Linked DNA regions of Homo sapiens. The protein of the gene in region 1 interacts with the protein of each later gene in a pairwise test. Each region holds a gene or a part of one and is shown on either strand. Other genes may lie near its edges.

Region 1 (2,361 bases):
CTTGAGCCCAGGTGTTTGAGACCAGCCTGGGCAACATAGTGAGAGTCCATTGCTATAAAAAAAAATAAATATAGCCATGTGTGGTAGTGCACACCTGTAGTCCCAGCTACTTAGGAGGCTGAGGCAGGAGGATCGCTGGAGCCAGGGAGGTAGAGGCTGCAGTGAACCATGATCATACCACTGCACTCCAGCCTGACACAGAGCGAGGCCCTGTCTCAAAAAAAAAAAAAAAAAAAGGAAATTTGGACACACAGAGAGACACCAGGGACAGGGACGCTAGTTCATAGAGACCATGTGAGGACACTGAGAAGGTGGCCACCTGCAAGCTACGGACAGGGGCCTCAGGAGAAGTCAAACCTGCTGACACCTTGATCTTGGACTCCAGAACTGTGAGAAAATGAACTTCGGTGGTTTAAGCCTAGTCTGTGGCATTCTGTTATGGCAGCTCGAGTTAAGACCAGGGGACTGTGGGGCCAGTGATAGGGTCTGTGTAGTGAGTTATGGGGTCTGGCGGGGGGTCAGTGATAGGGGTTTGTGAGGTCAGAGGTGGGAGGTCTTTAGATGCTGATGGGGGTCTGGAATAAGTGAATGATGGTGGGATCTGTGGGGTCAGTCATAGCGCATCTCTGGGGTTAGTAATTAAGGATCTCTCAGTGTTAGAGTCAAGATCTTTTATTTCCTGATTTTAAAAATCGTCACCATCATAGACCTCCTGGCTTCTCTTGTATCTGTGTTCTAATGGCTCCCAGCAGTGCCTTCACACAGCCCCTTTATTCCCCTTCTTGTGCCTGCCCATGAGCCTGAGTGTGACAGATCAATTAGCTTTGTCCCTCCAAACTGTGGGAGCAGGACTAGACTCTTCTGGCAGGCAGAGAGCTCCTCCTCGGCCAGTGTTCGAGCCTGGTCCACCACTCCTCAGTTCTTCTTGCTCTTGGCTTTTGTGGCCTTGGCATCCAGCGTGCTCTGGGCATGAGTGAGGTGCTTCACAGCATCAAGCACAAGGACTCCAGGCAGCACCAGCCACAGGGCATTCATGAAGACAAAGTAAAACCAGAAGTAGAGAGGGTGGCCCAGCTCTCCGTGCTGGAATCCGTCGCGGTGCTCTGTCAGGAAGTAGAGCACATCCCCATAGATCTGGCCTGTGGGTGGCAGGAGGGGAAGGAGAAGCCCCAGTGAGGAAGGGGACACTTTCGCCAATTCTCTATTCCAAAGCACTTTCCAAGTCATCATTCAAGGTCTCAGAGCTAAGTATTCTGAAATCACAGAGCTGAAAATCTGAGAAATCAGAAAAGTGAGATTCCAGACACCAGAGAGCTGAGAATTTCAGAACTCAGGAGAGCTCACACCTTCAGATTTAAGGAAGTTCAAAATCCTCAAATCCAAGACAGCTTAGGATTCTGGGACTAAAGATAACTCATATCGCTAGAACTAAAGAAAGCTAACAATTTAATAACACAAGATGACTGAGGCCGGGCACAGTGGCTCACACCTGTAATCCCAGTACTTCGGGAGGCCAAGCCAGGAGGACTGTTTGAGCTCAGGAGCTTGAGACCAGCCTGGGCAACATGGCGAAACCCCATCTCTACTAAAAATACAAAAGTTAGCCAGGCACGGTGGCACATGCCTGTAGTCCCAGCTACTCAGGAGACTGAGGCAGGAAGATCGCTTGAGTCTGGGAGGTGGAGGTTGCAGTGAGCCGAGATCACACCATAGCACTCTGGCCTGGGTGACAGAGCCAGACCCTGTTTTAAAAAAAATATGACAGAATCTTACATGAAGGGATCTCAGAGCCCTGATCCTGGAGGTTCCAGGGGCTTCTTGCCACCCTGGGCCACCTCATGTAACCTTCACAGGAGACTTTGTGATGGAGAAGGAGGAGGAGGAAGAAAAATGAACCCTCCCCACCTGAGAGTGCAGGCTCAGAGAAGGGCATGACCTTTCCAGAGCCTCAGGGGGTTTGTCATTCAGTCTGACTTACCCCTGGAAGGGCACCGTTGAGAGATCCCACCCACAGGGATACATCTGTGTCTGTGGATCCCCCATCAACCCCTCTAGTGCCCAGTGCCCCTCTAGTGCCCTTTCCTTACCCACAGAGACCACAAGCTGTAGAATGAAGCGGAGGGGATGCTGGCGGAGAAAGGCGATCACCACCCACAGGCTGAGTGGTCCCCACAGGCAAGCTGTGATGGTTTCCATGCACACTGTGAAGTTGTCACCCCTGCAGGAGAAAGCATGAGGGGACACTGGTATCGGTGTGCTCTTCCTACAGGTTAGCCCATTAGTGCTCCCCAACTCACCACCCCCCGAAAACCAATGCCAGTCTCCATTGACAGAGGCAAACACTTACAGGATGTATCGGCT
Region 2 (3,656 bases), on another chromosome or scaffold:
GGGAGGAATGAGACAAGACCTGGACTTGGGGAGAGTCCAGGGAGAGACGGAAGGCTGCAAGCAGGGGACTCTTTCTGGGCCCTCAGGACGTGGAATCAAGTGAAGACCAAGAAGTAGACAAGTTTGCAGTTTATTGAGTAATGGCTGGCTTCACAGATGTTATCACTGGGGGCGGTTGATAGGGGGAACAGGAAAATGCTCTCAGAGGTTCCCACTGAAGCCCTTTCATCTGCCCTGCCCCACCCACCACTGAAGCCAGAGGTCATGGGAGTTGGGATCTAACTACACTCTGTGAACTTACCACCACCCATTCCATCCCCAAGCCCATATTTTATTTGGACTAGCCACTGATGCCCGGGCCCTTCCTCTTCCAGGGGGTGGGAGGGTGGAGGTGGGGACAGGACCAACCCTCAAGAAAGAAAAGAGGTTAAGGTGGGGGTTTTGCTGAATGTCTAAGAAATGTCAGTGGAACAGGCTGGGCACAGTGGCTCATGCTTGTAATCCCAGTGCTTTGGGAGGCCAAGGCAGGTGGATCACCTGAGGTCAGGAGTTCGAGACTAGCCTGGCCAACATGGTGAAACCCCCATCTCTGCTAAAAATACAAAACTAGCAAGATGTGGTAGCACACACCTGTAATTTCCACTACTCGGGAGACTGAGGCAAGAGAATCACTTGAACCCAGGAGGCAGAGGTTGCAGTGAGCCAAGATCGCACCATCGCACTCCAGCCTGGGCAAAATAGTGAAACTCCATTAAAAAAAAAAAAAAAAGTCAATGGAACACAAAATTCCCTGTCTTAACATTGTACATTCGGGGCCTAGCTGCCCTTGAGGATGTCCTAGTTACACCCTCTCTGATACCTGTGGAGTTTAAGCACCATTCCTACCGCTGTGTCCCTTGGGAGGGGGTGCAGTGGAAGCTCTTAAAGGGGAATGCTTGCTCTGCCTCTGTGGCTTTTTGTTTGGGAAAGGGAGTTGGGATTGGAGGATTTAGATTTGAGGTCATGATGTCAGAGCACACCAGGAACTCCCAAGGCTGTGCCTGAAGATGCCCACGCTGTCAAGTAGGGTGGTGGGGGAGACAGCGAGGGCAGTACAGGACACAGGCACTCCTTTGTCTGGTAGAGAGGAGGAGGGGAAATGGAGCTATTCCAGGATACAAGGGATGGCACTGAGGGATGCATAAGTCCCCTGCCTCCCTTGTCTCAACATGTTCTCCTCTGCCAGCCCAGTCAGCTTGGGGAGCTAGGTATCAGAAACCTGAAGGATTCAGCCCGCTTTGTCCTACTAGTGTCTATAAGTCTCTGTCCTGAGATCCTGGGGCTCCTCCTATTTCTAGAAGGGATGAGGTGCCATCAAAAATAACTTGGCTGGTGTAACAGTTTAGAGAAGGAAGTCACACCTGTAGCCTGGCTGGCAGGCAGGTGGACATGAGGCTGAGAAGGGAAGCCAGATGTCAGAACATACTAGGCTAGCATGCCTGCTTCTAGCTTTCAGGACCCAATGTACACATACACATGTGTATCATGTATGTATATGCATGGACACTCAAGCACAGGAGGGGTTATGTGCTCTGATCTTTGAAACCAGAGAAGGGAGGAAAAGCCTTATGGAGGTCCCTCCCCCACCCTAATAGGTTGCTACCCTCAATTGCCATCTGCCCACCAAGGCCCCTGCCCAGTGCTAGGCAGATAGCCAAGTGGTAGGGGTGACATGACTCCACTAAAGCAGCAGCCCAAGGAAGTGAGGGAGGGGACAGAGGCTGACCCTCCTCAAAGCCCCTTGTTGTAGTAGACCACTTCAACGCTGGGGTTTTGCTCATGGATCTGAGCTCTCAGCTCTGGTTCCAGGTTGCTTATGTGTATGGAGCTGCAATAGAACAGCACAGGCCAGTTAACGTCCCCTGAATCCAACCCCACTCAGGCCCAGGGATTGCCATCCCACCTCCTCCCAGGCTGAAAAATCCTCTCCTTCTACTGCCAGAAGGACTGGCTCACTGTCATTCCCCCACTCCCAGAATCAGTGGAGTGCCTGCCAGGCCTCCTCCTGAACACCCTGGAAGACCCTAGGTCAGCTGGTCCAGAGATGCAGAGTCCAATCCAGAGTCCCCCACCCAGCCCAGGGACAGCACTTACCTCTTCTGGGGGAATAGGGCACAGCACAGGGGGGTTGCAAATACCAGGCTGGGGGAGACAAGTGTTGGAAAGGTTTGTAAAGCTTTGGCCTTAGGGTGTTCCCTCCCTGCACCCCACCCCATCCTTGGAGATAGGCCCTAGGGGTGGAGATTGATAAAAGCTGAAAGGACCTTTTAGGAATAGTAAACCCAACCTGGACATCAGGTTCTGAGGAAAGAGAGCCCCACAACCAGTAAGTGGCAGAATCAGGAATTAAATGGGCATGAATCTCCTGGATGGCACCAAAAGGTACATTTCCATGGTTTCCTCTTATAGATGAAGACTGGAACCCCCTCACTAGGATCTTGACCTTCAAGGACAGGGACCACCCCGTAACACACAAAGTAGACCCTATAGTTGTTCCAAACACACACCCACTGAATGTATGAATGGATGATGTCTATAAACATCTTAAAGACAATCCATACCCACCCACATCCACCATGGACAAGGCACTCCCACACACCCCAGCTAACTCCTTGCACACTTACCAGAAGCCCACCAGTCCCACCTGCAGGGGTGCCCCCAGCCAGGGGCGGCGCTGTGGAGAGACAGAAAGACAATGGAACGGCTTGTGTCCCCTGCCTCACTGTCACCCCATTTCACCCACCATAGCTCTATCCCATCAGCCTTGCCTTGGAGCCCTTAGACCTGTGGCCGTTTTCTTTCTCCCAAGGCAATGACAGGGCTGGGACCTCCAGATCACGCCCTTCCACTCCAGCCAGGCCTGTCTGCTGATCACCCTCCCCGGCATCCCATGACCTCTCACCTCTCAGAATTGGTTGCCATGGCACTCCCTGGCCCTTTTTTTTCTTCCCTCACTTCCTCCAGGAGCTGATTTCTTCAGGAAACCTCCTGTGAACCTCCACTTACCTCTTCCCATCCCAGTGGCATGAATCTGACCCTTTCCAAGCACATCTCTTCCTCGGCACTCTTCTCAATTTGCTCTGGCCACAGGGACCACCAACCTGTTCCTCAAATGTGCAAGCCCCTCCTACTGCAGTGCCCTTGCACTGACTGTTTTCTGTACCCCAAACACTCTTCTCTGCGTTATTTGGCTCTCTCCTCATCCTTTGCGGCATTAAAGACCCCTTCTCTGATCATCCTATCTAAACAGCTCTCCCCCATGAATCTCAATTACACTACCCCCATTGCTTTCCTACAAAGCACATATTACACTTTCTAAGAATGTATTTATTGGGTGCCTCCTTGTTTATTGGTTTCTGCATCAGACTATAAACTTCATGAGGACAGGGGCCATAACCATTGTGTTCAGTGCCATCTCCTCAGCCCTAAAACATGCCTGGTGCATGGCACTCAATACATTTGTGAATAAATGATTCTGTGAATGAGCCAGAGCTTGTTCCTGTGCTTTGCTTTCGTGTCCTGTTCATGTCTGTGTGTGCGTGTTCACCCGTGTGTACCTCTCAGTATGGAGGCACTAGGGGGTAAAAGAATGAGCATGAGATCAAGCATGACTATGA

Evidence for each region. The genes of interacting proteins can lie anywhere in the genome.
Region 2: the proteins of EBP (region 1) and SFXN3 interact in binary tests that used the Homo sapiens proteins (3 or more experiments, as listed by UniProt).

The regions. Positions count from the first base shown.
Region 1 is NC_000023.11:48,527,012-48,529,372, reverse strand, and holds the end of EBP (3-beta-hydroxysteroid-Delta(8),Delta(7)-isomerase), read right to left. Parts: coding exon 2,348-2,361; intron 2,219-2,347; coding exon 2,088-2,218; intron 1,140-2,087; coding exon 916-1,139; 3' UTR 657-915; downstream 1-656. UniProt on the Homo sapiens protein: Isomerase that catalyzes the conversion of Delta(8)-sterols to their corresponding Delta(7)-isomers a catalytic step in the postlanosterol biosynthesis of cholesterol.
Region 2 is NC_000010.11:101,037,700-101,041,355, reverse strand, and holds the end of SFXN3 (sideroflexin-3), read right to left. Parts: coding exon of another isoform or gene 3,583-3,656; exon of another isoform or gene 2,986-3,582; intron 2,714-2,985; coding exon 2,664-2,713; intron 2,182-2,663; coding exon 2,134-2,181; intron 1,868-2,133; coding exon 1,771-1,867; 3' UTR 115-1,770; downstream 1-114. UniProt on the Homo sapiens protein: Mitochondrial serine transporter that mediates transport of serine into mitochondria, an important step of the one-carbon metabolism pathway.